Regions from separate parts of the Homo sapiens genome. Here regions 2, 3 and 4 are each linked to region 1. Evidence: fine-mapped expression QTL. A gene starts in region 1. Each other region holds a variant in brackets. All regions are shown on one strand. Distances are between the middles of the regions. Region 1 holds the start of IGSF9B (immunoglobulin superfamily member 9B). Region 2 has its middle 13 kb from the start of LINC02731. Region 3 overlaps IGSF9B (immunoglobulin superfamily member 9B). Region 4 has its middle 9.9 kb from the start of SPATA19.

What was found. PIP is the estimated chance that this variant, and not a neighbour inherited with it, causes the effect. A credible set is the group of variants that fine-mapping cannot tell apart.
Region 2: its variant is the best candidate, but not a certain one, in a credible set for the expression of IGSF9B in unexposed skin (GTEx, PIP 0.72).
Region 3: its variant is the best candidate, but not a certain one, in a credible set for the expression of IGSF9B in whole blood (INTERVAL, PIP 0.83).
Region 4: its variant is the best candidate, but not a certain one, in a credible set for the expression of IGSF9B in whole blood (INTERVAL, PIP 0.69).

Annotation. Positions count from the first base shown.
Region 1 is chr11:133,952,628-133,960,177 of GRCh38, reverse strand. IGSF9B (immunoglobulin superfamily member 9B) reads left to right here and starts at 3,210. Exons shown (of 20, transcript NM_001277285.4): 1 at 3,210-3,487. The coding sequence starts at 3,424. RefSeq lists a silencer at 3,032-3,381 and an enhancer at 7,527-7,550.
Region 2 is chr11:134,041,394-134,048,943 of GRCh38, reverse strand. No RefSeq gene overlaps it. Among named protein-coding and RNA genes, the nearest start is that of LINC02731, 13 kb to the right of the region's middle. RefSeq lists enhancers at 1,280-2,479, 2,328-2,828, 2,829-3,329. The variant T/C (reference allele first, on the strand shown) is at 3,574.
Region 3 is chr11:133,917,883-133,925,432 of GRCh38, reverse strand. It overlaps IGSF9B (immunoglobulin superfamily member 9B), which reads left to right. Exons shown (of 20, transcript NM_001277285.4): 15 at 529-613; 16 at 2,703-2,864; 17 at 3,211-3,256; 18 at 4,036-5,691. Among named protein-coding and RNA genes, the nearest start is that of MIR4697, 23 kb to the right of the region's middle. The variant G/A (reference allele first, on the strand shown) is at 3,974.
Region 4 is chr11:133,851,659-133,859,208 of GRCh38, reverse strand. No RefSeq gene overlaps it. Among named protein-coding and RNA genes, the nearest start is that of SPATA19, 9.9 kb to the right of the region's middle. RefSeq lists enhancers at 3,710-4,909, 4,542-5,427. The variant T/C (reference allele first, on the strand shown) is at 3,623.

The sequences.
Region 1 (7,550 bases):
CAGTTCCCTATTTATGTAAACACTAAACACGCTCTTTGGTGTTTGTGTTGAGTAAACTGCTTTTATTTAGAACTGCCTCTCCTTTTCACAAGCAGCTGTCCCAACAATTGTTCTACCCTAGATTCTGCAATGAGGGCTGGAACCACTGAGGAAGGTGAGAAGTGACAGACAAGTGAACTATTGTTTTTGAGTCCTCCTTGTTCGATGACTATGAGGAGGGAAGGAGGATAGTTTCCTCTTCTCCTACACTTGAAGCTCCTGTCAGCCCCCTTTCTCACATGTCCTCCAAAGGCCTCTGGGATGTGCAGGTAGGTGGCTACATTTGGTTTTTTTTCATAGACACACTGATAAGACTATTGTTTTGTATTTCCAAAAAGTCAGTACCTCTTAAAAGAAGATGACAGACACTCCCGTATCTGATATACATAGCATTCCTGGATATATTACTGCATTTATTAGTGACATCGATGACATTCAGGTACACCTAGGAGCTGCGCAGGGAAGTGGCTCATGTTCCTCCCTCATGTCCCTTTTGGACATCTGGGGTCCATGCTCCCCTTGAACACTCAACTGGATGTGTCTATTCTAGGAAGGGGCAACCATCCTTTCTGGGTCCAAAGCTCAGCCATACGCCAAGAGGAAAAGATTTGATCAGACTCACTCCTCACTGTAAGCTGATACAGTATATCTCTCTTTAGCTGATCTGAAACCCAGTTGAGACATGTCTAATGATGATGATGATGACGAACTTTTCCCTTTGTATCTTAATTTTCTTCCCCTTCCTCTCTGCCTTCATCCCTTGTTCCACTCTGTTTCCAGTAGAATTATCCAGAAGAAATTTGTTCTCCTCTTTAGATAGATCCTTCGAACCCCTTCCCAACCCAACTCATGTTCTAAAGCTTGTTACGTGTTTTTTTCTTTCCAATTTGACAGACACTTTTGTTGTTGTTTTTGTTTGTTTTTTAACAGGGTCTCATTCTGTCACCCAGGCTGGAGTGCAGTGGCATGATCACTGAGCCTAGAACTCCTGTGCTCAGGCAATACTCCTGCTTCAGCCTCCTGAGGAGCTGAGACTACTGGCATGAGCCTCCATGCCCGCCATCCATTCTGACAGACAGTTCTACTTTCCTAGCAGGAGGCAGAACCCTGAGTAGGACAAATGGATGGCCAGACAAAGCAATCAAGATGGGTGGTGAGAGTGGCTCCATCTTTTTCCTTGCCCTGCAGGCCCCTAGGAGAGGGTTTCTCTGAGACCTGATGTTTCCCACTCCATACCTAACAATGGTGAGGAACTAGGGCCAGGCTTTGTGGATCCGGCACTTTTCTCTAGGCCACAGTTAGCTGCTTAGAGGTTGTGGGAGGAGAAGGATCCTGTTATGACCAATTCTGCAAATGGATTCCAATATGTCTTTACAGTCCCGGGGCCCTGGGAAAGTGTGTAAGTGTGTGTGTATGTATATGTGTGTGTGTGTGTTGGGGGTGGAGTTATTCTGGGTCATGCCACCTGGAAATCACTGCATCAATGAGACCTGGAGATCACTGCATCAATGAGACCTGGAGCAGCTCACTTCATTGTCCCCAGAAAGGCATCTTTGCCCAAGAAGAGAACCAAAATCATGGCTCAGGGAGAGATGGCCCCAAGTTATGCATCTTGAGTGTGTTTGCACAGGTGGAGGGGTGGGTAGGGTAGAAGGTTATTCAACAGTCCTGGTTCTCTGGATCTATCCAGGCCCTCGACCTTTATCCATGTGCTCACTGACTGCTCTGTTGGGGGCCTCTTTCTGCCTCCCAGCTGGCGGTGAGCTAAGAGGCTTCCGGTGTCAGGGAATGCTCCACCTCCGGTGTTCAAGGCCACTTTTTGTGCATGTGTGTGTACCTGTGTGCACGCTTTCCCAGAAGCAAGTCTCCTTCTTGTTGTTTTGGGAGCTTCATGTCCTGGAGCCAGGGCTTTGTGGCTAACGAGTGCTTTGAGAGGATGAAATTCCTGAGCTCTCGCTCGCTGACCCTCTGCCTTCCTTCCTTGGCCAACAGCCCATCCCAGGGAGCGGTGTGATTCTTACCACTGCCTTCACTCCTTGAAAGAACAAACATCTTCACTGCAGCCTCTGAGCGCTGGTGTGAGGTGATTGTTTGTAGTAGATGTTTCCATGACACTCATTTATTTCTTCTGCAAATACAACTGTATTGGGGGAGGGGAAGCAGACAGGCTAGGGTAGGGAGACTGGAACATACGAAGACCTTCCAGTTTCCTATTTACATTCCTCTGTAGGATGAGAAGCTCCTTCCCTTTCCCTGGGTCTCCTCCATCCCAGACTCCTAAAGCTTCCCCCAAACCCATCTTGGTTTCATGCGGCCGAGTCGGGGCTGGGCTCCGAGTAAGGTGGAGAGGGGAGGAACCATGTGCGTGAGGAAGCAGCCTTTATCAGGAGAAGTGGGAAAAAGACCCAACTTTGACTGCTTGGAGTCGGGATTCAGTAATGATGAGCAGCAGTGACCAGCACTGGGGGTGGAGTGTGTGTGCACGAGTGTTCCTGAGGGGTCTGTGGCACTTCGCAGCTGAGCCAATGACTCACTCTAAATCTTAGCGACTTTGAGAGGTCATTTTAGTCATCCCCCGGTCTGCATCACGTTTGGAGGGGGTGGTGCGCTGCTCTGGGGACGTGTCTGGGTGCGGAGGGAGACGGGGTGGGGAGGCGGCGCGTGACCTCTTTGAAAAGATCTCCGGCGAAGGACGTTCCCCGGCTCTCCCGGGCCGCCGGCTCCTGGGTTTCCCCATCATAGAATCAGCATGGTCCTCTCGGGAACTGCTTTTTGCCGGATGGAAACCGGATGTTGGGTTCCATGAGTGGGCGGGGGCTCCACTTCCCTCAGACCTGTCCGGGGTAATTGAGACCCGCCAGGGTCCCGTTAGAAGCTACCATTTCCCTCACCAGAAACTTGCCACGCAGTGTGAGCCGAGAGAGAAGCGGGCAGAGACGCTATACCACCTTCTCCCCGGCAATGCGCATGATTCTGCGGCTCTGTGCTCGCCACACTTCAACGCACCTTGAAATGGGCTCGCCTCCTTCGCGCCGCGACGGGCGGAAGGCTGAGCCAATCGGACCCCCGGCTTGCGGGCGGCGCCCAATAGGCGGGCGGCGGGGGCGGTTCCGGAGGCCCGGCCCGGCTAGGCTTCACCGTGGACCTGGCTGCGCTCCGCCCGGGCGAGTAGTGCAGGTGCCGCTGCGCCGGGGCCGGGGAGGCGCGCGCCGAGCCGAGCGGAGCCTAGGAGGGATGGAGAGCTGGCCACCCGGGCTGCAGGAGCACCGGCGCGGGGCGTAGGCGGCGCGAGGCGGGCGCGAGGCGGGCGCTCGGGCGCGAGGCGCGTGCGGGCGCGGGAGCACTTTGCGATAGGATGAGGCTCCGGGCTGGCGCGGTAGTACTATGATTTGGTATGTGGCCACTTTCATAGCAAGTGTGATCGGCACCCGAGGGCTTGCGGCTGAAGGTGAGTTGAAGTGCGGCGTCCCTCCCCTGCCCCTCCCGGCGCCCTCGGCCCCTCGCGCCCGGCCCCTCGGTTTCCCGGCTCCTTGGCCCCCCGGTTCCCCAGCTCCCCGGCGCGCCTTCCCGCGGGTGAGGCTTGGGCTCCGACGCGGGCCAGGCGGCCCGGGAGCATTGCCGGGGAGGGCCTGGGGGCCGTGGGCTGGAGGGGCGGGCGGGAAGGGGCCAGAGCCCACGGGCTGCCGGGCACTCGGGGAAAGGACGCAGTGGAACCTGGGTCGACTTCGCCCACCACGGGCCCCACGGTGCACACCGGCGCGCCTAGCCCGTCGCCTCCTGCCCGGCGGCCGCCTCCCAGAGCTGCGGGAAACTCTGGCTGCGGGAGTTTGCGGTCTCCGGGCAGGCTGCAGCACGCTAGAGCCCCGCGCCGCGAGGAGCGCCTGCAGGGAGGCGCGACCCGGAGGATCCCTGGGACTGGCGGCACCCGCGTCTAAGGCCCCGGGTTCGCGCGGCCCTGCGGGCGTCCATCGCTCCGCTCGCGCCCCTCCTGCCCACACATCTTGGCAGCTGGAGGTCGGATCCCCCTAGCAGGGGCGCCCGGTGAGAGGAGGATTGATGAGGCCAGCTTCGAGGTGTGTCCGCTTTTGGCTGGACCCCGCCGGCCCCCGCGCCTCTCAGCCGCACCTGGGCCCCGGCCAGGCAAAAGTTCCCCGGGAGCGCGCCGCAGCCGCGCGGGCCCCACGCCGCCCTCCCCAGGCTGCGAGGCAGAGCTGGCTGGGGGCGGCGGCGGGGGAGGGGAGGGGCGGGGAAGGGGGGGTCCCCACGCTGTGAATCCGAGCGGAGGGGGGATTTTCTCTTTCCGCTTTCCTGGGTCTGAGCTGGGGGAGACGCAAGGGGGGAGCCACCGAGTTGGGTGATGCGTGCGTGAGCGCGCGGGCTTTTGCTTTGGAGATGGGCAGAGCGACCTACAAGCCTCTGGGTGGCACCCCCGGCTCTCGGCCCTTGTATGGAAGTGGGAGCGGAGCCTGGAGGGTGCCAGGACTGTGAGCTCAGGGCTGTCAGCGCGCAGACACGACCCGGCTGCGGGCAAGTTCACCAAGCCGGAGGAGATGGCGGCGGGAGAGAACCCGCTGTGGGTGGGAGTCAGCAGGCAGGACTCGCCGACAGAGAACCCTCTCCCAGCGGCATGGGGCGCCGGGTGGGCTGGAGGCGCCTCTCACGGGGTCCCCTCGTCACTCGTCTGTGCAGGGGGGCGTGCTTCAGGAAACTTTCCGGAATGGAATGAATATGTCGCCTCTGCTTCTGAGGGGGGTGGTGGTGTCTGAAAACAGAACGAGCAGAGGGCGAAGCGAAGGGTGATTTTGTTAACTGACATGTTGGTCCGGACGGTTTTAAAACTCTTCATTTGTCAGGTGGGAACACTGAGGCAAGGGTGATGGCGGAAGCTTACGGAACGGGGGGTGGATGTGAGGTGCATCGGGCTGCGCTTGACAGTCTGCCTGTAGCCTCATCCTCTCCCCCATTTCCTTGCCGTCTTCCAATGCCCGCATCCTCCTCCCCTCCCGTTTTTGGTATGTTCCTGCTATGGGACTGTCCCTGAAAGCACAAAAGGATGAGCTGGGATCTTTGAATAGAAAAGAGACGCTGAAGGAAGGCTCTGAAATAGCCTCCGAACCTAAGTCAGGGTGGGCAATGGACTTCTTTGCAAGTTTCAGCCCAGAATAAAGGAATGTGAGTTTATACTGCAGCAACACGCAGAATCGCAAGATAGAAGGAAGGGCTTCCCAAAATTGAAGGCTGCCTGGCATGAAGGTTATGCCCTCTTTCAGGGTGCAGAGGGGTCCTTCTGTCTGGAATGGCTGGACATGTACCCCTGTCTGGAAGCAGAGGGTGACCTTGCTGGTCTTGGGGTCTTTCTTAGCCTCAATTGCTCTGTGTGTGGTAGTTAAGGACCTAGGTCTAGAGCCATATGACTGGGATTCAGATTCTGGCTGTGTCACCTGCCGACCCTGTGACCTTGGACAAATTCTCAACCTCTCTAAATGTCACTTGCTTCAATAGAAAATGTGCCAATAGCATGTACTTTTAGGGTTTTTAGGTGGACATGAGTGTTATAAGGAAACAAAACAACTACCTGTTATATAGTACGTGCTCAGTAAACATTAACATTATTTTCTCAGTGTCCCTGGGATTCCAAGATCCTCCTCAATTTCTTTCCCTTGGGCCATTCAGGGCACTAGGAGCTGAGAATGTGTTGCGGGGAAGTTCAGAAGGCTGCCTGTGTCAGGAAGTAAGACCCCTTTCTGGGCTGACCTTGTCTGGGCAGAACCTCTTGTCCCTGGCATCCCAGGGACACGTGTGCAGGATGTGCGGGCCTCAAAGCTGCTCGGAAGTCCTTTGCAAGGTCTCCAAAGCTGGAGTGTTGTTGGTGGCCAGAGGTTTATGGAAGGACACAGCCCGGGAAGTGAGGGCTTGCAACACACAGCCTCTGGAGAGAGCGGGTGGGCGCCCGCTCGTGTGAGCAGCACCAGCCAGTGTCCACATGCTGCTGAGTCTCCCTGTGAGAGCTCAGCTGTTCCCTGACTGGCAGAGGTGACTTCTGGGGCAGTCCCTCAGCAGGAGGGACTTTGAGATGCCACCCTTAGGATTTGGCCATAGCAGGGGCTGCTCTGGCAGAGGGGGAAAGGGATGATGTTGTGTTGGGACCCGACTCCATCAGCCCTCGGGTGCGGGACAGAGGTTGGAATGGGCTCCTCCTTTTGACTTTGAGTGTGTGTGCCTGGGAGGTGATTAAGGTCAGTGGACAGGTTGGGGAAGTGTGGAGAAGAGAGGGGCTGGAGTGGTACCCAGAACCTGGAAGACAGTGATTGGTGTGCACTCAGTATCTCAGACGGCTGCTGAGCCAGCCCGGGGGAGTTCCTACTCTGTGGGAGGACCCTGGGCCGTGCTTAGCTGATTGTGGACCTTGGATAGGGGAGGAAAGTCCCAGACTTTACTCCCACGGCTGCCTCCTCTGTCTGCCACAGATTCTGTCGTTACATTATCCCTGACTACAGTGTCCCCAAATACAGTGAGGTTCTGACTCAGATCCTGCTGGTAGTTGGGCCATTGCCCTCTACTTTCTACCTGGCCTTGACCTATGCTTCCTTTTGGTAATGAAGATGGGAGGGTGGAGGTTTGGACTCAGAGGTTGCTATCAAGACCCCGTGGTGAGCCTATCGGCTGAGAAGGACTTCACTCAGGAAGTGGTCAGTGGCTGGATGGATGTGTGTGTGTATCCTCAGCACACACATGCTGGGGACAGGAGTGTGTCTGGCAGCCTGTGCCCTGTGGGAAGCTGGGGAGACGGGGATGTGAGAAGGGCTTGGCTGAGGGGCAGAGGGCAATCAGCTTTCAGCCGCGGGCCTGTGGCCCTGCATGTGCTGGTCCTGGAGTTGCAGGGTCCTAGATAGACCTTGAGTGGTTTCGTGTTTATGGCTCTGAGACAGAAGGCTGGAATCTGGTTACAGAGGAGCAGAGGCTGCCTCGCTGGAAGATTCTGAGCCCCAGCATCACTCTGGCCCTCACTCCAACCTCCTGTACCTTTGCCTTCTCCCCAGCCAGGGTGCTGGCTGTGTCTTCTTCCTTGGCCCTCTCTTCCTCAGCCCTGCTGGGTGCTTCAAGATGTGGGGGTGGGAGATAAGCTCCAAAGAGGGCTGGGCCTGAGATTTAAGGTAGCTCTCTTCTCCACATCCTGTGGCCTTCTCAGGTTGGGGTGCAGAGTACTTAGGGAGCGGTCCCCTTCCACCTGCTTCCTAGAAGAGGTGAAGCAGCTTGTGTGAAGAGTGGATCTGAATGGTCAAAGAGCTGCAACTGCTGAGAGCTTCCAGCTGTCCAGAAGTGTGTGTGTGTGCACATGCATACATGTGCACATGTGTGTGCGCATACACACATGTTCCTATATGTGTACATATGTGTGTGCCCCTGCATGTGTGCATATATGTGCCCCTGTGTGTATGCATGCTGGCATGTATGTGCATTGCATATGTGTGCACACCTGTATGTGTGTGCACATGTGCCCATACGTGTGC
Region 2 (7,550 bases), 89 kb before region 1:
GTCCCTCACTAGGCGTTAAACTCTATGTGTGGACACTACATTCGATTCATCATCATGCAGTGTGCCTGACACTATGCTTTAGCCGTACTGAGTGATGAGCAGACCTCTTATTGATTGAAAAGGAATTTCCTTATTTTTTATAGCTCAACTTAAATATAATTTTTCCCAGGCTGGGCACAGTGGCTCATGCCTGTCATCCCAGCACTTTGGGAGGCTGAGACAGGCAGATCACTTGAGGCCAGGAGTTCGAGATCAACCTGGTCAACACAGCAAAACCCCATCTCAACTAAAAATACAAAAATTAGCTGGGCGTGGTGGTGTGTGCCTGTAGTCCCAGCTACTGAGGAGGCTGAAGCATGAGAATTGCGTGAATCCAGGAGGCAGAGGTTGCAGTGAGCCGAGATTGTGCCACTGCACTCCAGCCCAACTCTGTCTCAAAAAATATATATGTATATTTTATATAATATATATTTATATATTTTATATTTTTGTTTATATTTTATATATTTACTTATAATACATTTTTATATTTATTATGTACATATACATAGATATATATAATATCTCCCAGTAAGTCTCCATGAATTCCCCCCACTACCCCAAGGTGGGGGTGACGTGCCCTCTCGGTGCTTCTAGAACATGCACTCTTCCTACCACAGTGCCTGTCCTACTTATTCCAACGCCTTGTCACTTGCTTTCTCACCCACTAGATGACAAGCGCCTTGAGGAGACAGTGCGTCTGTGAGGCCTCCAGTGCGTGCGTTGCACATGGGCAAACTGTAGGAACTGAGTGGCTATCTGATGAACAGATAGATAAAGAAATGAATCCACGTGTAGATGCATGGAAGCAGGGAAGGGGAGAGGCGCTACAGATGACCTTTAAGATTGCCTTAAGCTCTAATATTTTATGATTATAGAGCTTTGAACTCTTTCTTGGGGGAGAGTGGTCCAAGGTATTTGGAAAACAGTACAGTGATCATTGTAGAGTCAGGTGGTCGTTTCCTTCCAATGGACATTGTTTGCTTCCAGAGGGGGCGGGGCCTGCTCCTCCCATTCTACGGGGAATTGCGTGTTCCCTGGGCTGAGCGTGGCCCAGAACTTGGCAAGATCTCTGGGGCGTTCATTTTTGTCACCCAGCCCCGGTAGGAGGGTGGATGGGTGGGAGGGGAACTGTTTTGGGAAAGAGTGCTGGGGAGTGTTTGTGTGTGTGATGAGTCAGGGCCCGGAGCTGGGAGCCTTCCTCTCTGCTGGCTCTCTGTGGGGGTAGTTCTCACCAGTCACCGGGAGGGTAGAGGATCACCAACTGTCTTCGGAAAGTTTGGAAAGTTTTCTTAGTCATTACGCCAAGTCAGCTGGAGCTTTATGTAACGGGGACAAGCAGAGGTATGATGGCATTGGAACGGCTGCTCCTCTTTTCGGCAGCAGCTCTCACCCGTCCCCTCCTAACTGCCAGGGCAGTGACCGGCCCTACATGTAGGATGTGGCATCTGGGGGCTAAGGGTCCCTGCTGTAGATGTCTGATTCCCGCTAGGAAAGAACTTGGGTTGTCTTAGAGAAGCCCTCGGGAAGGGCTCAGTGCATCTCGGAGGTGCTCCATCCTCCTTTTGTTATCCCACATCACGCTGGGGGTAAGAATCAAGCCAGGGTCCCCAGCACTCAGGACTCTGGTGCCTGAGCCGGAGCCGCAGAAGACCTGCTTCCCTGGCTACCGTCCCTGCTCCGGTGCTGCTGGCCGAGGCAGCCCATCTCTGCTCTCTTATCTCCTCGCTCTCCAGGCACCGGGAGATGCATACTGGGTTTCCTGTCTCTGACATTGAAGCCAATTTGCCTATCACAATTTGAGTTCTGTCAATGACAGCTCCAGATAGGGCCCGAAATGATATGCGTGTGTGGACACGCGTTCGTTCGCGTGTTTAAACGGAAAGAGATACAAAGAGAAGGAAGGATGGGAGAGGAGAGGTTTCGGGTCTGGGAGGAGCGAGGATGATGGTGACTCACCTGGCTGAGGGGACGAGGGGCACTGAGAAGCAGCAGCAATGCCCAGAGGTCTGCGGAGAGTTGCAGGGCCTTCCACAGGCCTCTTCCAGGCAGCTGAAGGCATCTTAGAGAAGCTGGGGCTTGTCCTCCTTTGTTACTTGCGGGGAGGAAACTACCCCAGGTCCGAGAACTGCTGGGGCCGGAAGCTTTGGAAAAGATGAGAAGGAGCATTGTTTTGGTTGGGAAGCAGAGCGCTGAGGAGTAGCATGGCCGCAGCATCACGCCGGGTGACTTCTCAGAGCAAGAAAGAACGGCTGCGGTTGAGAAATTAAGGTAAGAAATGAGGATACATTTCCTGACAGTGAGGAGGGCTGGCCTGACCCAGTGGCCCCAAAAGAGAGTTTCAAAATCAGGCCTCTAGTCGTCGAGCATAGACTGAACAGCAGGAGGGAGAGCTTAACAAGGAGAGGCTGGCAGGGCAGGACTAGCTGGTGGTTCTGGGACCTTCCAGCCCCACGTTACAGCTCTGGTCCTTCCTCAATGCCAGGAAGTTGTGCGGGCACCAGAGGCCTCCCGGAGGCCAGAGGGAGAAACCAGAAGGGAGGACTGCAGAGGGGGCTTGAGATGGAGTGGGACCAGAGCAAGGGGAGCAGGGGCACGAGGATGTTTGGGAGAGAGGCCGGAGAGTTTCATACCCGGGCTGGTTTCGGATCCATCCCCGGATGGGTGGGGACCAGGGTGGTGGGAGAGGTGAAGAAAGCAAGACGAGACACAGCACCTTCCCCTGCTCAGGAGCCTGGGGCAGGGCGGCGCACGACAGCACCTTCCCCTGCTCAGGAGCCTGGGGCAGGGCGGCGCACGACAGCACCTTCCCCTGCTCAGGAGCCTGGGGCAGGGCGGCGCACAGCAGCATCTTCTGCGTGCCGTCGAACTGAGAGGCCAAGCTGAGTGGAGGCTGGAGCTGTCTGTGAACCCAGTAAGGAGAAAGGAAGGAGAGAGGGCTGTGAAGGAGGGAGAAAGTTCCCCAGCGCACCACCAGGTGCCAGGCAGGGACAGCGTGGAGACAGCTGGAGGCTGCGGGCCTGGGCAAAGGCAGGGTTAAGCTTTGTCTGAAATGAGATCTTTATTTAGACAGTTGCCTTCTGCCTCTGGGCTGGTGTTAAGACCATGGCAGGCTCTATTCCCATCCTCACAGGCTGAGCCCCACGTCCCTGGAATTTCATGACCTCCCACACCTTCTTGCCTATTCCCAGAGGGTTGGGACACTTTTTGTTGTTTCCAGTAGATTATGTAGGACTTGGGGGGGTCTAAAGCAAGCCCTAACCCAGTGGCATTTAGTGCCCATCTTTGATCTGTGTCCACCTTGCCCTGTTCTTTGCTTGGATCTGTTTGTGTGACTGATGGCTCAAGCAAGGCCCTCCTTCCTCAGTCTACAGCTGTTCCTGCCTCTTCCTGGTCCCTAGAATCCACAGATCCGGCCATGGTGTCTCAACTGCATTGCTGGGTTTCCTTACTGGTCAGCTTCTAAGAGTAGAGAAGGCACCAGAGCAGAGAAGTTATGCCCGAAGCCATCAGAACCGCACTGCCCAGGCTGAA[T/C]GCAGGATTCGCACCTGCCAGCGGTAGCCCTGAGCAAGTCACAGAATGCTAGGGAAGGCTGGGAAGAGCATTTGCCTTGAAGACGAGCTGTGAGGACTGGAAGCCAGCATGCATGGAACGTCATCTTTGCTTGTGGCTTCAATGTGGGAAGCTCTCAGGCAGTGTGCTCTCCCATATGTAATCATACTTGCCCCAAACACAGACAACGCATTCCAGCGATGCTAGCCGCCTCCCTCCTGTACCAAGAACAGCCCATGCTCAGCCCCAGTTTTATGCACATAAACGTCCTCCCACCTCCGGTACAGCTACTCACACTCCCCCACCTTGAGGCCGCACTAAAGTGCCGCCTCCTTCCCAAAGCCTTCCCTGATCAGCCCAACCCATGCAGATCTCTTCCTGCTTTGCCTTATTCTGCTCCAGCCAGTGCCTTGAAATGTAACGTTTCCATCATAGAATTATCCCATTTGGGAGCTGGAGGAGTCCTTAGAAATGGCTCCAGTCAGTTGCTCTTAACCAGAAGGGTTAATAAGCAGGAGGTACATCCCCATGACATCCCGGTGGCACCTACCGCTCGCCTCGCCGGTTGGCCATCACAGTCCTACTAAACTTGCTGCTGCCTCGGATTCCTCCTCAGCACAGTGCTCCAGGCATCAGTACCCATCAATCAGATGCGCCACTGCCATCCACAATCCAGGCCATGAGAAGTTGTCTATAACTTGGTGTAGCTGGAGCTTTTGGAAGTACAGGGACCTGCTTCAGGCCTGAGGCCTGGGGATAGAACTCTGGTCTTACCTCTATCCAGGGCTCCTCAGACTATGCCAGGGGCCTCTTTAATAGTTTTTTGACTCTTCTCTGCCTGTGAGTCTTGCCTTCCCAACCAGTGAATTTGAGCTGTGATATTTGTGGGGATGTCCTCCCCAGCGCTGAGCACGAGACAGGACATGTCACGTGCTCACTGGTTGATGTATTGACTGCTTGGAGCTTTCCCCCAGCTCCTCTAACTTGTGTTCAGAGCTCAGTCAAAAGGGCAGGGGGAATTGGGGTGGCATGGAGACTCAGTCTCTCTGCCGATAGATAAGTCTGCCAGGACTTCCCCGGTACCTCCTCTCTGCCCACAGCAGCCACAGGTATTCTGAACATGCTGAAAGACAAGACAGGGTCTGGACATCAGGAGCCCAGAAAGATCATCTTCGTCCTGTAGCTCGGTGGCTCGGCCTCGGGAGGCTGTCTTGCAGGGCCTCACTGATCATCATTCAGAGGGAGCTGCATGGGGAAGGAGAGGGAGATGGTGCAGTTGGATGCCTGCCTCTCTTGGGCACTGATGGGCTGGGTGAGGGTCTCTTGAAGGGTGGTCCCCCCTTGAGTGGGAGCAGATGGACTGGAGGGGCATGGCTCACGTACAGGTTGGTGGAGGAGCTTCCCCCAACCTGGGCCCTGGAGGACACAGTTCCCAAATGGAGTCTTTTCTTCCTATGCTGTTGAAAGGCGGCACTACCATCTGCTCAGGTCCATGCGCTGGAAACTTTAGGGTCCTCCAGTGGCCCCAGGCCTGTCCCTTCCTTCCTCTAGCCCTCAGCAGGTTCTCCTGCTCTCTTCTTGCCAATGTGCGGCCTCCTGGTCTTGCTGCAGACCCAGCCCTCCTTCCCCCCGGTCTCATCTGCAGGTCTGCAGTGCCCCTGGCTGAGCTTTCTAGACATGTCACAATGTTGCCAGATTTTTCTTTCTGAAACTTAGATTTTATGATGTCATTCCCTGCTTGAAAATCGTGGTCACCGCACTGTCTTCAGGAGAAGGTGAAACCCCCCAGCCCAGGCCTTCTCAGCCTCTGTGCTCTCTGCATTCTGGGGGGGCTCTGCTCTGCTGTGGGGGCTGCCCTGTGCATGGTGGGTGCTTAGCAGCACCCTGGCCCTACCCACCAGGGGCGGGGAGCAGCCTCCCTCCCACTCCTGCAAGTTGTGACAACCAAACATGTCTCCAGCCATTGCCAAATGACCTCTGAGGGGTAAAATCGGTTGAGAATCACTGTGGTAGCCTATAAAATAGGATAATAATAACTAATGACAATGCTTACTTACTCAGCTCTGTGCTAACAGCTTTCCATGAGGTCTCTCATTTAATCTTCAAAATATCTCTATAGGGAAGGCCCTATTAGTATCTCCATCTTACAGATGCTCAGAAGGCAGAAGGAGTCCAGATCTTTCAAGATAAAAAGACTTTTTCCTTCCATGTGGGGTAAGAAGAGAGGTAGATAATTCAAAATCACTTCTCCTTCAGGCAAGAGCCACAGAACCGGAGGCAAGTCAGGCAGGCTTGAGCTCCAGTCTGTCTGCTGGCAAGATCTGATTTCTCCCCACGAGCCCCTGTCCACGCTTCCCAATCCCACACCTTCATGCAGGCCAGTTCCCTGCCTGAGAAGTTCCTCTTTGGCCTGGGGAGATCTGTTCATTATTCAGGGCCCAGGCAAAAGCCCCTGTCCTGTTCTCTGTGAAGGCCCCCAGGCCCCAGGAGGAAGAGAGAATTATCCCTTCTGCGTGGCTCATGACCACACACACCCTGGGTGACGAGTCCTGCAATGGCTAATTGTGCAGGCATCTTATTCTGTGCCAGCCTATCTTGGGGCAGGGGTCTGGGGGTGGGGACTCCGGCTGGTCCTCCTTCATCATGATGACATGGAGTGCCTTGCACAGAGCGCTGGATCCCCAAATGTGTGTGGAGTGGAATGCAGTGGGGCAGTAGGCGGGTAGTGGCTCCTTCCAGGACGTGACGCTGAGCCCACTGGACACCAGGAACCACAGGGCCTCCCGGCAGGCAAGGGAGACCGAGGGCCCCTCCTCTGGGCTGACGCAGACTCTCAGCAGAAGACATGGCTTAAGGAGCAACACATGGCTGGGTTTTGGCCGCCTTGGCTGGGGCCTCTGAGCCATGCCTAAACTGCAGACTTGAGGGATGATGCAGCTCAGAGCTTGCTTTGGTGTCTGGAGTAACGAAGGCTCGTGTTCTCTCTCACGCAGGCTTCTAAGAGTGTGTGCATGCAGGCACGTGCTGCTGTGCGTGAGTGCACAGCATGTGTGCTGTGTGGAAAGAGAGGCTGTGGGTGCCCTTTCCCAGGCGTGCCGCATCACTGAGGCACTGGTCATAGGCAGCATTTGCGCATTTCTGCTCTTGACACTGGGTTGCATACACAGTCCTGTCACACAGAGTCAAGGTCCAGGAACCCACCAGCGTTCTAGAGCCTTGAAGAGTGCTGTCCGCTCCCTGCCTGCCCCACGTTGCACCTAGGCAGACGGCAGTCCGAGCTCCGCTCCCCGCCTGCCCCACACTGCACCTAGGCAGATGGCAATCCGAGCTCGCTCTCCTTTCTCCCTCTCTCCCGGCTAGAGGAACGGAGCTCACACAGCATTGACCCCTGCCTGGCCTCTCTAAGCAGTTGCCAGACCCCCTGTAGCTGGATGACCACTGGACTGGGGAGGCGGTCTCGGCCAATGGTGGTGGGCAGGTGGGATCAGCTGAATGAGTCCCAGGAGAAGCCAAGTGCAGAAGCTGGCACTTCGTGTTTCCTATTGCCAACCAGCAGAGAAAGGCCTTCTTGAGAAGAAGTCATAATTTTTGGAAGAGTGGCTGAACAGAGAAGAAACAAGGCACAGGGGCTGGGGCCATTCCCCAAGATAGGCCCAGACTGTGCCTGTGGCCATGTGCCTCATGAGAGTGTGCCCACCTGGGTCGTGTGAGGCAGGGGCTGGGGTGGGGAGGCAGTTATACTTGTGAAGTATGCATAGTGGGTAGCTGTACACCAACCCACGTGAAGAGAGTGTAGGCCGGAGTTTCCAGGGACGTTTCTGGCCTCACTCCTGCTTGCACGTATGCATGGTACGCGTGTGTACATGCCAGAATAAGAGCATGTGCACCCTGTCTGTGTCAGTGTGTCCCTGCTGTACACACATACACCCCACGTGCCTTCATCTCTGCACCTTCAGGGG
Region 3 (7,550 bases), 35 kb after region 1:
CAGCCCTTGCTGAGCCTAACCTGGGGTGGGCAGAGAAGTTCCAAGAAGAATTCTCTTCTAGGTGTGTCCAGGGAAGAACCCCTTCTCCAGTAATTTAGAGCTCCTGGAAGAAAGTGCATTATCTCTTTTTCCAGTAGCTCCGTTAAACTTGGATATCTAGCTGGGGAGAGGAAGCAGCTGGTTTCCTAAGATACAGTCTCATCTATCTTTCTGTCTTCCTTCCTGGACACTTATTTATCAATAGTGGTTGCTGGAGTCGGCTCCCAGTGGCCCTGGAGAGCCTGTTGTACATATCTCTTCCCAACGCTTTCGGTGACCTCACGTTCGTAGCTTGAAGTCAGCCATTGTAAGAGTGTTTACACCACAGCAATTGGCCAGTGCTACCATCGCTTAGCATTAGACACTTAGCAGTCCTCCTGTGCTTTGGGTGCCCTGCCCTTTGCAAGGCTGTGTGCAGGATGAGTGTGTGAGGGGACAGTGGTCATCTCAGGTCCCTCGGCTGACTGGGTATTGTCCCTGGGGCTGCAGGACACGTGGTATGAGTTCCGGGTTCTGGCCGTCATGCAGGATCTGATCAGCGAGCCCAGCAACATCGCCGGCGTCTCCAGCACAGGTATTTTGGGTTGAGGGTGCTCTTGCAACTATAGGGACATAAGCCCCAGAGCTGCATGGGGGTCATTTTGTGAAATGGCTACTCCACGAGGAGAAGCTGGATTGGAAACTAAGGCAGTGCCTGGTTGCAGCTGCGTGAGTCATAGCCTTTCTTAAGCCCACCAGACCCATATTTCCATGATGCATGCTATTTCGTGAAGCTCAGAAGCTGAGTTTCTGACACTTGTATAAGACAGCCACAGAAAGAAATTCAACTAATCTTCTCATTATAGTAGTCAAAAAGGACTTGATTGAAGTGCTATTTGCTGTACATTTTCAGTTTCCTCTTGTCGGGGAGGGGCTGTGAATCGGAGGAAACAACAGGTCAACCATGTTTATCAAATGCTTGTGATAGACTTCTTTATAATTATGTGGGTTTTATTTGGAAAATTGTTGTTTGGTGTTTTCCTCCCTTCCTTCCTCTCTCTAGATTTTTAAGGCTAAATAAAGCCAATTCCCTAGCATTTTCTCCATTTATCTTTCTTTCTCTTGGCCCTGGTCCCATTTCTACACATCTTCTCTCCAGCTATAGTTCCTGAGACATAGCAGGTTCCTCCGCCAGTGAAGGGGTGTCCTTGGTATGGGAAAAGGCTCTTGCTTATAAGCAAGTGATGGCATCATTTCCTTGGGCACCGCTCACCCAGAGTCCCCTGGGACCAGGTGACAGTGACCTCGTCTGAGGAGCTCATGCAGCAGGACTTGTAGAGTTGGGGAAGTGCTGGTGTGGGCACACTGCAGGGAGCACGAGAGCAGGGGCAGGTGTGGAGTGCAATTTCTGCTTTATACATTAGGCATCAATGGGCTTTAAAAAAAAAAGGTTGTGTCCTACAGGTAGCAGAACCCACAGTCTTTCTTGACTTCTCTGTGGGGAATAGACTCAGAGTTGGAGGAACAGGGATGAGAGCTTGCATCCAAGGCTGGAGCTGAAGAAGGGGTGTTGTGTGGGCCCACCCCTGACCATTCTGTGCTCAGTAGCTCTATGCCAGCTCCTGGCAGGAAATGTGCCTCGTCAGACACTTCCACACAGGGGAAGGAGGAGGCAGCAGCCTCAGCATTCCCTGTATTAGGTCCCCCATTTCCAAAGGCTGTAGCTTTCATTTTCCCCTCAGACAATCAGCATCATCTGGATTATTTTTATCCATTATTATTATCGATGCAGCAATGAATTCTGGCCAAATACGTTACAATCTATCGATTCTGCCTTTGCTGAACCTAAGCAGTGGCACTTACCGACACAACTTTCCTATGAGTATAAGATGGTAGGCTGGTGTCTAGTCTTGGCTCGGTCATAACGAGCTCTGTAGACTTGGGCAGGAAAGGAGGACGTTCAGCTCCTTATGGTGAAACGAGAGATTTGGCTCCATCTCTGCTGTCCCTGCCAGCTCTAGGGTACTTCCGTACCTGAGATGACCAGGATGCGAATCTTCAGGACGTTGCATGCCTGTACTAGAAGGGGAGAGGATCTGAATTTTGTAGTAATAATCCCTCTTCCTGCAGTCGTATTTTATCCTCAAGTTGCCTTCACACCTGGGCTCTCCTTTTGTAGAGACACTGGTGTGAGGCAGGAAATCCCAGACTGGGAGCAGGCAGCTGCGTTCTGGTTTGGGCACTGATGGCAATATCCACGTAAGCGGGTCTCTCTAACCCAGTGGATCAGAGCTCTTTCATTTAGAGAATGAGAACAGTATGTGTGCTCTGTGTAGCTCATGGGGTTAACATGAGAAGAGCTGATAACGTGCATGAAGGTGCTTTGCAGAAGGCAAAACCCTAGATAAGTATAGATTACTCTTGAAGTCATTATCCCCATGGGGACAGGCATAGATGTTTTCTTCTTTACACCCTTTGGAGAGATTGACTTCTGTAGACTCTCCTCTCTTCTTCCTCTTCGTGACGCCATCCAAACCTCTTCAGTGCTAGAGTTCAGCTTGGAGCCCGAGCCTTGACACTGTCTGTTCTACAAAGGCAGGGTGAAACACTTGGGGACTGAAGGTCGGAGCAGGTGAGGTCCCGGGGAAGGATGGGCTCATGAGTGCTCCCCACCCTCCCTGCAGACATCTTCCCGCAGCCGGACCTGACCGAGGATGGGCTGGCGCGGCCTGTGCTGGCGGGAATCGTAGCTACCATCTGCTTCTTGGCAGCTGCCATCCTGTTCAGCACCCTGGCTGCCTGCTTTGTCAACAAGCAGCGCAAGCGTAAGCTCAAGCGCAAAAAAGGTGGGTGTCTGTCCCCTTCCCTTGCTCTCCCTGGCCCGGTTTCAAATGCCCCCCATCAAGAGAGGTGGACCATTTTTAGCATGGCCCCCCTTGGAAATAGGGACATTGAGATCTTGTGGGTAGAGCTGCCAGTGAGACTTGATTTGAAAGTGGGGGTAAGAAGCAGGGGTGGTGGGGAGAGGCTGCTGGGGCCCAAGCTAGCATGAAGGCAGGGGCCAAAGATGCCCACTGTGAGCAGCTCCTTCCCTGTGCGGTGGTGCTCCGGCTCTGTCAGCCTCTGCAGATGCGCGTGCTGCGTGGTTGCTGGCTTGGCCTCAGCAGCCTCTCCCCTTCTCTTTCCTTCCAGACCCTCCACTCTCCATCACCCACTGCAGGAAGAGCCTGGAGTCTCCGTAAGTGTCTCAGATCCTGGGAGAATTGTGCTGTTCATGGCAGGGGGCGCATAGGTAGACCGCTCGCCTTACCCAGCCCCATGTTAGTGTTTCTAAGCCATTTCTTCTTGATTGACCTGTGTGTTAATTGTACTTGCCCAGCCCCATCTCAGTGTTTCTAAGCCATTTCTTCTTGATTGACCTGTGTGTTAATTGTAAGTTGTCCACGCTGGTAGAGGGAGTGGCAGTGCAGATGATCCAAATTAGCCAGTAATCAGTTTCTCTTCAGCCTTGGAATGTATTTCTTTAGTGTTTTCCCACCCTAGCAGATTTGCCTCCTTAATATGTGTTGCTTAAGTTGATATTAAAGTGAGCTTGCTTGTCTTGAAAAGAGGGGAATGAAGCTGGAGGTGTGCTTAGAGCACAGCAGAGAGGGGGCAGGCCAGCACAAAAGTGAAGAGGCGGGTGTTCACTGGAAAGACGGATGATGGGGGGGGCCGGGCGCGGCGGCTCACACCTGTAATCCTGGCACTTTGGGAGGCTGAGGCAGGAGGATTGCTTGAGGCCAGGAGTTCAAGACCAGTCTGGGCAACATAGCAAGACCCCGTCTTTAAAAAAAAAAGGAGGATTCACGTCCAGACGGTGGAGAGTTGGCCAAAGCATTTCACACCACGATACACAGCCAGTTTTCTTGAGCGTGAGGATCCTGGGTGCTGGGTGGTTGCCGAGAGAGGGAAA[G/A]GAAGTCCTGGCCAGCACACTGCCCCACCTCATCCCCTCCCGGCTCTTGCTCCTCCTTGCAGCTTGTCCTCTGGCAAGGTGAGCCCCGAGAGCATCCGCACGCTCCGAGCGCCGTCAGAATCCTCCGACGACCAGGGCCAGCCCGCGGCCAAGAGGATGCTGAGCCCCACCCGTGAGAAGGAGCTGTCGCTGTACAAGAAGACCAAGCGGGCCATCAGCAGCAAGAAGTACAGCGTGGCCAAGGCAGAGGCCGAGGCAGAGGCCACCACGCCCATCGAGCTCATCAGCAGAGGCCCTGACGGCCGCTTCGTGATGGACCCTGCCGAGATGGAGCCCTCGCTGAAGAGCAGGCGCATCGAGGGCTTCCCCTTCGCCGAGGAGACGGACATGTACCCCGAGTTCCGCCAGTCGGACGAGGAGAACGAGGACCCACTGGTGCCCACATCTGTGGCCGCCCTGAAGTCCCAGCTCACCCCTCTGTCATCCAGCCAGGAGTCCTACCTGCCACCACCAGCATACAGCCCTCGGTTCCAGCCCCGCGGGCTGGAGGGCCCCGGTGGCCTGGAAGGTCGGCTTCAGGCCACAGGCCAGGCCCGGCCCCCTGCCCCCCGGCCCTTCCACCATGGCCAGTATTATGGGTACCTCAGCAGCAGCAGCCCTGGGGAGGTGGAGCCGCCCCCGTTCTACGTGCCAGAAGTGGGCAGCCCCCTGAGCTCCGTCATGTCGTCCCCGCCCCTGCCCACCGAGGGGCCCTTTGGCCACCCCACCATCCCCGAGGAGAATGGAGAGAATGCATCCAACAGCACGCTGCCCTTGACTCAGACACCTACAGGAGGGCGCTCCCCTGAGCCCTGGGGCCGGCCAGAATTCCCCTTCGGGGGGCTGGAGACCCCAGCGATGATGTTCCCCCACCAGCTGCCACCCTGTGATGTGCCCGAGAGTCTGCAGCCCAAGGCCGGCCTCCCCCGAGGACTGCCCCCCACCTCCCTGCAGGTGCCCGCGGCCTACCCGGGCATCCTGTCTCTGGAGGCACCGAAGGGTTGGGCAGGCAAGTCGCCCGGCAGGGGCCCTGTCCCAGCGCCCCCCGCCGCCAAGTGGCAGGACAGACCTATGCAACCTCTGGTAAGCCAAGGGCAGCTGCGACATACAAGCCAAGGCATGGGCATACCTGTGCTGCCTTACCCCGAGCCGGCTGAGCCGGGGGCGCACGGCGGCCCCAGCACATTTGGCCTGGACACCCGGTGGTATGAGCCCCAGCCCCGGCCCCGGCCTAGCCCTCGGCAGGCCAGGCGCGCCGAGCCCAGTTTACATCAAGTGGTGCTACAGCCCTCCCGGCTCTCACCTCTGACCCAAAGCCCCCTCAGCTCCCGCACCGGCTCCCCTGAGCTCGCCGCCCGTGCCCGGCCTCGCCCGGGCCTCCTGCAGCAGGCAGAGATGTCAGAGATCACCCTGCAGCCGCCGGCTGCAGTCAGCTTTTCTCGAAAGTCTACGCCGTCCACAGGCTCCCCCTCCCAGAGCAGCCGCAGTGGGAGTCCCAGCTACCGGCCCGCCATGGGCTTCACCACTCTGGCCACCGGCTACCCTTCCCCTCCACCCGGCCCCGCCCCTGCTGGGCCTGGGGACAGCTTGGACGTGTTTGGACAGACGCCTTCCCCTCGAAGGACGGGGGAGGAATTGCTCCGACCGGAGACCCCACCACCCACGTTACCTACTTCAGGGTGAGTGCGCCGCCTCTTCCGCCACCCGCACCTGGGCAACTTCCTTCCCCCACCCGCCTCGCCCTGCCCTCCACCCCGTCCATCCGCCCGGCGACAGGGCTCGTGCGGACATGCCGCACCGGCGTCCCTCGGAGAGGAGTTCTGGCCGCCGCGGTTTGGGCGGGGTGCAGTCGCTGGGGCGCAGCGGGCCCACCTGCCCAGGTGCCCTGCCGGGAGCATGAGGCGTCTTCTCCGGCAAGCCCTGAGCTCTCGGCGGGCGCACCACCTACCAGGGAGCGGCGGATCACAGCGCGTGCCCTTGCGGGGGTGGACCCCGTCCCTCTTGGAGTTGACGGCTCTCCGAGTCCCTGCGGTCCTGGCATCGGGCAGGGGTCCTGGGGGTTGCCCACACACCTCGTGTCTAGCCTCCTTTTCTTCCCCGGCCCCTGCTGCTTGCTAAGCAGGACCCCGGAGCCTGACTTCTCCAGACCACCAGGCCAGGGGCCTCCTGTTCCCGAACTCCTGGCCCTTAGCAGCCCTAGTGAGCGCCGGACTCCAGCCCCCTCCTCAGCCTCTCCTGGAGGCCCAGAGAAAAGGGTCAGGCCTTGTGACCATGTGCAGGACACGTCCCCCACCCCCCCCCCGTATACCTCGCAGGAAGCTGCAGAGAGACAGACCAGCTCCCGCGACCAGCCCGCCTGAGAGAGCACTCTCTAAACTGTAGCAGCTGGTATTCCAGGTACCAGGGCCTGGACGCCTGCCTGTGCCTCTTCTTCTCTCATCCTTCTTCCCTGCCGTCCCCGCTCCTCCTCCCCCTGCCCCTCCTTCCTTCTCCAGTCAGTCTTTCTCTCTCCTATCTTCCTTCCTCACCATCGCCTTTGGGTTCGGAAGAGCCGGCCACGCCTCTGTAGTGCCCCCGGATACCCCGTCCCCCGCCCTCTTCTCTCTCTCTCTCTCTCTGGCTCCGTCCTTTGGTCTCTCTTCTCGATGTAGCCGCCTGTGGAGGGAGCAGAGAGTTCCAGAGGAGGCTGGCCTGGTGGAAGGCAGGATGGGAGGTGGTCGAGGAGGAGGGAGCCCAGCGCCCTCCCCCTGCCCCGTCCCCCACCCTCCCTGGTACCTGGAAGTCCAAGGTCACCTCCCACCCGCAGCCCCACCGCGGGCTGCTCCGGGGCCGGCCGAGGAAGGGGGTGCGGGGCTTAGGGCGCAGGGAGGTGGAGGAGCCGCAGCCGCCGCCTGTGCGCGGAGGTGCCGCGGCCGCCCTGTCTCTGTGCTTTGTGCGCGCTCAGCTCATCTGCTTCCTTCCATCGTGTCTGGGTCTCCGTCTCTCTCCTCCTCCCTCCCCCACGCTCCGGCCTCGCCTGTCCGGTGCTCGCTGTGCCCCTCCCTGCTTCCCTCTGGGTGTGCGTGGGCGGTGCCCCCCGGCCGGTGTTGGTAACTGCTTTGTTTCTGATTGATCTCAGCTATCTGGGCAGTGTTGTCGAGACAAGCCTCTCCTCAGCTCAATAGGTAAGGGAGCTCCTCGGCTGGGCGGGCGGGGGCGGGCAGGCGGACGGGGCTTCGGCCGGGCCATTGCTTCCTGGACAGGGGATCCAAACCATGTCCCCTCACCGCCCCGTGGGGTGGCCGCTGCCGCTCCTCGATCCCCACGGCTTCTGGGTTCCCCACATCGAGCCACGCTCGGCACCGCCTAGCTGCAGCTTCTGCCCCCCACCCCCCGTCCCCATGTCCGGCCCCTCTAGAGCCCCCTGCGGCTCTCCTCACTCCTCGCCAGCCTCGCCAGCCTGCTGCCAGTACACCCAGGGCCTCCCACAGAAGCCCTGGGGCCCTGCATGCACCCCGAAGGGGCCCAGAACACCCGAGATCTGCTTTGCATCTCTGCA
Region 4 (7,550 bases), 100 kb after region 1:
TAGCCAGAAAAGTTTTGGGAAAAAAGATTTATACTACTTGATCTCAAATTTACTACCAAGATATAATTATCAGACGATGTGGTGCTGGTGAAAGGATAAGCCCAATGAAGTAAAACTGAGAATGCACAAAAGAATAAACTCTTAAGGTCAATTTAATTTTTAACAAAGGTGCCAAGGCAATTCAGTGGGGGCAAAAACCAGTCTTTTCTACAAATGGTGCTGGTATAATTATATGTTTATAAGAAAAAGCATATACAGATCTTTACCTACAGCATATCCACAAAAACAACTCAAATAGATCATACGCCTAAATTACATTTAGGCTATTATAAAATGATAAAACTTTTAGAAGAAAACAAAATATTCTTCATGACCTTAGATTGAGCAGACTTCTTAGATATGATGCCAAAAACATATTTCATACTTGAAAAAATATTTGAATTCATTAAAATTAAAACCTTTTTGCCTTCAAAAGAAAACATTAGGAAATTGAAAGACAAGCAAGAGATTGGGAGAAAGTACTTGCAAATCATAATTTGATAAGGGACTTGCATTCAGGATATGTAAAGAACACAATACTCAATAAAAAGAAGACAACTTAATTTTTTAAAAAAATAAATATTTGGATATTATATCAACTTTTATATATATAACATATATATAAGTTTTGTGTGTGTATATATATCATATATATCAAAATCTTTATATATAATGATATATAAAAATCTTTATACATGTTATATGTATAAAAAGATTTAGAGATATATAAAATATATATAAATTATATATATGTTGGTATAATATCTAATATCTATATATCTAATATATATCTAATATATAGTTTATTAGCTATCTAATATAATATATATCATATATATCAAAATCTATATATAAAGATTTAGATATATATAAAACATATATATGTTATATATATGTTGGTGTGATATCTAATATATAGTTTATTAGCTATCTAATGTAATATAAACAGATTATCAATATTATAAGCTATCAGAAAAATGCAAGTTAAGGCAGATGATATACCTCTTTACACACCAACTAGAATGTCTATTATAAAAAGAGATAATACAAATGTTGTGAGGATCTGGAGAAACTTGAGCCTTCATATCTTGCTGATAAAAATGTAAAATATTACAGAAAAAAGTTTGACATTTCTTAAAAAGTTAAATGTGTATCAAATATTTAAAGGGGAACTACTATTCATACTTTTACAGACTCTTCCAAAAAACAGAAGAAAAAAGAAAGTATTCCAACTCATTCTATGAGGTTTAAAAAATCAAGAGGAATTGAATGCTACAAAACCCTGCTACCAAAACCAGACAAGGACATCAAAAGAAAATAAACTATTGCCCAATATCTCTTATAGATGTAAAAATTCTCAACAAATAATAGCAAACTGAATTCAGCACATATAAAAAGGATCATACTTTATTACCAAGTGGGATTATCCCTGGAGTTGGTTTAACATTTGAAAATCAAAAACTAATGTAGTACACAATATTGATAGAGTAAAAGCCACAACCACATGGTTCACCTCAATAAATGCAGAAGAAGCATTGGACAAAATCCAGTGCTTTTTGATTATTAAAACACTCCAAAAAGTAGGAATAAAAAGTGAACTTTATAAACCTGATAAAAAGCATCTATGAAAAAATTCTCAACTAACACTATCCTTAATGGTGAAAGACTATACTTTTCTCCTAAAATCAGGAGCCAGGAGCAAGAAAAAGATGTTTGTTCCTTCAGTTCTATTGAATAATGTATAGCCAGGACAATTAGGCAAGAAAAATAAATGAAAGGCATTCAGATTGGAAAGGGAGATGGAAAACTATTTGCAGACGACCTGATCTTGTACATAAAAAATTCTAAGGAATTCACTAAAAACTATTACAAGAAATGAGTTCAGCAAAGTTGTGGGATACAAGATTATTATTCAAAAATCCACTATACTTCTCTATACACTAGCAATGAAAAACCCAAAATGAAATTAAGAAAAAAATTCCACTTACCCTAGCACTAAAAAGATAAATACCTAAGAATAATAACAAATGAAGTGCAAGACTTGCACACTGAAAATGACAAAACTTTGTTGTAAGAAATTTAGGATCTAAATAAATAGAAATAGATGTTTATGGATGGAAGACTTAATATTGTCAAAAGGGCAGTACTCCCCAAACTGATCAATAAACCCCTATTAAAATGCCAGTAGGCTTTTTTTATATTCTAAAATTCATATGGAAATTTGAGGATCCCACAATAGCTAAAACAATCTTGAAAAAGAACAAAGTTGGAGAACTCAAACTTTGTAGTATGTTAAAGCATACTATAAAGCTACAATAATCAAGACAGTGTGGTACTGGCATAAGGATAGACACATTGGTTAATTGACAGTCCAGAAGTAAACTCTTACATTTATAATAATTTGATTTTTGACAAGGATGACAAGACAATTCAGTGGAAAAAGAATATTCTTTTTAATAAATGGGGTGGGGACAACTGGATATCTACATGCAAAAGAATGAAGTTGGGTCCTCTACCTCACACTATTTATAATAATTAACTAAAAATGAATCATAGACATAAACACAAGAGCTACAACTATTAAACCCTTCGAAGAAACAGAGGATTAAATCTTTATGGTCACAGGCTGGGCAACGGTTTCTTAGATTTGACACCAAAAGTACAAGAAACAAAATAAAAAGAGATAAATTGGGCTTCATAAAAATTCAAAATTTCTGTGCTTAAAATGACACAGTTAAGAAAGTGAAAAGGCAACCCACAGAATGGGAGAAAATATCTGTAATCATATATCTGATAAGACACTTGTACAAGGGATACATAAAAATTCTAACAACTCTACAATAAAAGACAAATAATCCAGTTATAAAATGGAAAAGGATTTAAGTATATATTTATCCAAAGAAGAGGTACAAATGGCTAATAATCACAGGAAAAGATACTCAGCATCATTAATCATTAGAGAGAGACAAATCAAAACCACAGTGAGATACCACTTCACACTCACTAGGATGGCTAAAATCAAAATGACAGGTAATAATGCTGGCAAGAATGTGGAGAGATCAAAACCCTCACACATTGATGATGGGAAAGTAAAATGATTCAGACATTTAAAGAACATTTTGACGGTACCTCAAAATGTTAAACATAGGGTTACCATATGACCTGGGAATTCTACGGCTAGATGTAAACCCAAGAGAATGAAAACATATGTCCATACAAAAACCTGTACACAAATGTTCATAGGAGCATTATTCATATTGCCTCTGTTTATAGAGATAATCCAAATGTCCATCAGCTGATGAATGGATAAACAAAATGTGACACATTCATATAATGGAATACTACACTGCAGTAACAAGGAATGAATTGCTGATATCTGCTATAATGTGGATGACCCTCAAAAACATTATCTTCAGTTAAAGAAGCCAGTCACAAAAGACCAGATATTGCATGATTCTATTCATATGAAATGTCCAGAATAAGCAAGTCTGTAGAGACAAAGTAGATTAGTGGTGGCCTAGTGCTGAGAGAGAGGGTTGGGGGAAAATAGGGTTTGACTACTGATGGGTACGGGGTTTCATTT[T/C]TGGAGTGACAAAAATATTCTAAAATTAGGTCGAGGTGATGGTTGTACATCCATCCAGTGAGTATACTAAAAACTATTGAATTGTATATTTTAAATGGGTGAATTTTATGGAATATGAATTATGTCTCAATAAAGCTGTTAAGAAAAAGTAAAACATGTTAAGCATAAAGTTATCAATCTAGTCCTAGGAATTTACCCAAGAGAAACAAAATATATTTCCATTCCACATAATATTTTTTCAGATGTTCATCACAGATTACGGTGCATGGGAGGAGGACTAGATTGCAGTTCCAGCAGAGCGGCATGTGGAGGCCTGCATTATGAATTTTAGCTCCAGATTGACTGCAAGAACAAACAAGCAGTCCTGAGAGGACCCACAGACCCTCTGAAGCAAGTGGACTTCTCCTGCAGGACCCAGGAGACACCCCAAATACCGTGAGTGCCCCGAGTGTGGAAGTGGGAAAGGGAGACCCTCCTCTCCTGAACACACACCCCCACTGGAGAAGCTGAAGGACTGTTTGTGGGAGAAGTTTCTGACTTTATCTGGAGCTGAGTCAAGTTAGAGAGCCCAGCTGAGTGAAATACAGGGGTAGAGAAAGCAGCAGGAAGGCCCTGGGAGCTTGCTGGCTCCCCAAGCAGCCCATTCCTGCCTGGCACCACAGGGATCCATCAGGAGAGTGGCTGGAGGAGCAGGGGGTAAAACTCCACAGGGAGAAGGAATTCTCTAGCTGAACTTTGTAACAGTTTGAATGGGGTGAGAAGCCTCCTGGTGAGAACACGGAGGAGGGCGGGAATATGGCTTGCAGACTTCATGGTGGGGAATAACTAAAGCCCTTTTCTTTCACAGCTGGGAGGCGGAAAGCCCCGGGCAGGTTTTCAAGCCGTATCGCCCTCTGACTGGAAAAAGACTCAGGGCTCTTGCAGAGGGCACAGTGTGAATGAGACTAGTCTTTCAGATTCTGTGGGAGCTGGGTGACGCCTGTGACTGCTGGCTTTCCCCCACTTCCCAGACAACCTGCATGACTCAGCAGAGGCAGCCATAATCCTCCTAAGTACACAACTCCAGTGACCTGGGAATCTCACTCCCGTCCCCACAGCAGCCGCAGCAAGACCCACCCAAGGAGAGTCTGAGCTCAGACATGCCTAGCCCTGCCCGCACCTGATGGTCCTTCCCTACGCACCCTGGTAGCGGAAGACAAAGGGCATACAATCTTGGGAGTTCTAGGGCCCTGCCCACCGTTGGTCCCTCTCCACACTACTACAGCTGATGCATTCTGGAAAGCAGCATCTTCTGGCAGGAGACCAGGCAGCACAAAAACAGAGCATTAAACCACCAAAGCTAAGGACCCTCACGGAGTCCATTGCACCCTCTGCCACCTCCACTGGAACAGGCGCTGGTATCCACAGCTGAGAGGCCCATAGATGGTTCACATTACAGGACTCTGTGCAGACAACCCCCAGTATCAGCCTGGAGCCAGGTAGACTTGCTGGATAGCTAGACCCAGAAGACAGACAACAATCACTGCAGTTTGGCTCACAGGAAGCCACATCCACGGGAAAAGGGGGAGAGCACTACATCAAGGGAACACCCCATGGGATGAAAAAATCTGAACAACAGCCTTCAGCCCTAGACCTTCCCTCTGACAGAGCCTACCCGAATGAGAAGGAACCAGAAAACCAACCCTGGTAATATGACAAAACAAGGTTCTTCAACATCCCCCCAAAATCACACTAGCTCACCAGTAATGGATCCAAACCAAGAAGAAACCCCTGATTTACCTGAAAAAGAATTCAGGAGGTCAGTTATTAAGCTAATCAGGGAGGGAACAGAGAAAGGTGAAGCCCAATGCAAGGAAACCCAAGAAGTGAAGGGAGAAATATTCAAGGAAATAGATAGCTTAAAGAAAAAACAATAAGAAATTCAGGAAACCTTGGACATACTTTTAGAATTGCTAAATGCTCTGGAAAGTCTCAGCAATAGAATTGAACAAGTAGCAGAAAGAAATTCAGAGCTGGAAGACAAGGTCTTCAAATTAACCCAATTCAACCAAGACAAAGAAAAAAGAATAAGAAAATATGAACATAAACCCAAGAAGCCTGGGTTTATGTTAAACGACCAAACCTAAGAATAATCAATGTACCTGAGAAAGAAGACAATTCTAAAAGCTTAGAAAACATATTTGGGGGAGTAATCGAGGAAAACTTCCCTAGCTTTGCTAGAGACATAGACAGGCAAATATAAGAAGCACAAAGAGGCCAGGGACGGTGGCTCACACCTGTAATCCCAGCACTTTGGGAGGCTGAGGCAGGTGGATCATATGAGGTCAGGAGTTCAAGATCAGCCTTGCCAACATGGTGAAACCCCATCTCTATTAGAAATACAAAAAATAAAATAAATAAAAAATAAACAAACAAATAAATAAATTAGCTGGGCTTGGGGGGCATTCACCTGTAATCCCAACTACTTGGGAGGCTGAGGCAGAATTGCTTGAACCTGGGAGGTGGTGGTTGCAGTGAGCTGAGACCATGCCACTGCCCTCTATCCTGGGCGACAGAGTGACACTCCATCTCAAAAATAAATAAATAAAGAAAGAAGCACAAAGAACACCTGGGAAATTCATTGCAAAAAGATCTTTGCCTAGGCACATTGTCATCAGGTTATCCAAAGTTAAAATGAAGAAAAGAATCCTAAGAGCTGTGAGACAGAAGCACCAACCTATAAAGGAAAACCTATCAGATTAATAGCAGATTTCTCAGCAGAAACCCTACAAGCTAGAAGGAATTGGGGCCCTATTTTCAGCTTCCTCAAACAAAACGATTATCAGCCAAGAATTTTGTATCCAGCAAAACTAAACATCAAATTTGAGGGAAAGATACAGTCATTTTTAGATAAACAACTGCTGAGAGAATTCTCCATTACCAAGCCACTGCTACAAGAACTGCTAAAACAAGCTCTAAATCTTTAAACAAATCCTGGAAACACATCAAATCATAACCTCTTTAAAGCATAAATCACACAGGACCTATAAAACAAAATATAAGTTAAAAAGCAAAAACGAAATACAAAAAACAAAGCAAAGTACAAAGGCAACAAAGAGCATGATGAATGCAACAGTACCTCACATTTCAATACTAACTTTGAATGTAAATGGCCTAAATGCTCCACTTAAAAGATACAGAACCACAGAATGGATAAGAACTCACCAACCAAACTATCTGCTGCCTTCAGGAGACTCACCTAACACATAAAGACTCACATAAAGTAAAGGGGTGGAAAAAGGCATTTCATGCAAATGGACACCAAAAGCGAGCAGGGGTGTCTATTCTTATATCAGACAAAACAAACTTTAAAGCAATAACAGTTAAGAGAGACAAAGAGGGACATTATGTAATGGTAAAAGGCCATGTCCAACAGGAAAATATCACAGTCCTAAACATATATGCACCTAACACTGGAGCTTCCAACTTTATAAAATGATTACTAATAGACCTAATAAATGAGACAGACAGCAACACAATAATAGTGGGGGACTTCAATACTCCACTGACAGCACTAGACAGGTCATCAAGACAGAAAATCAATGCAGAAACAATGGACTTAAACTATACCTTGGAACAAATGGACTTAACAGATATATACAGAATATTTTATCCAGCAACTGCAGAATACACATTCTATTAAACAGTGCATGGGACTTTCTCCAAGACAGGCCATATGATAGATCATAAAATGAGCCTCAATAATTTTAAGAAAATTGAAATTATATCAAGCACTCTCTCAGACCACAGTGGAATAAAACTGGAAATCAACTCCAAAAGGAACCCTCAGAACCATGCAAATACACGGAAATTAAATAACCTCCTTCTGAGTGAGCATTGGGTCAAAAACAAAATCAAGATGGAAATTAAAAATGTCTTCAAACTGAAT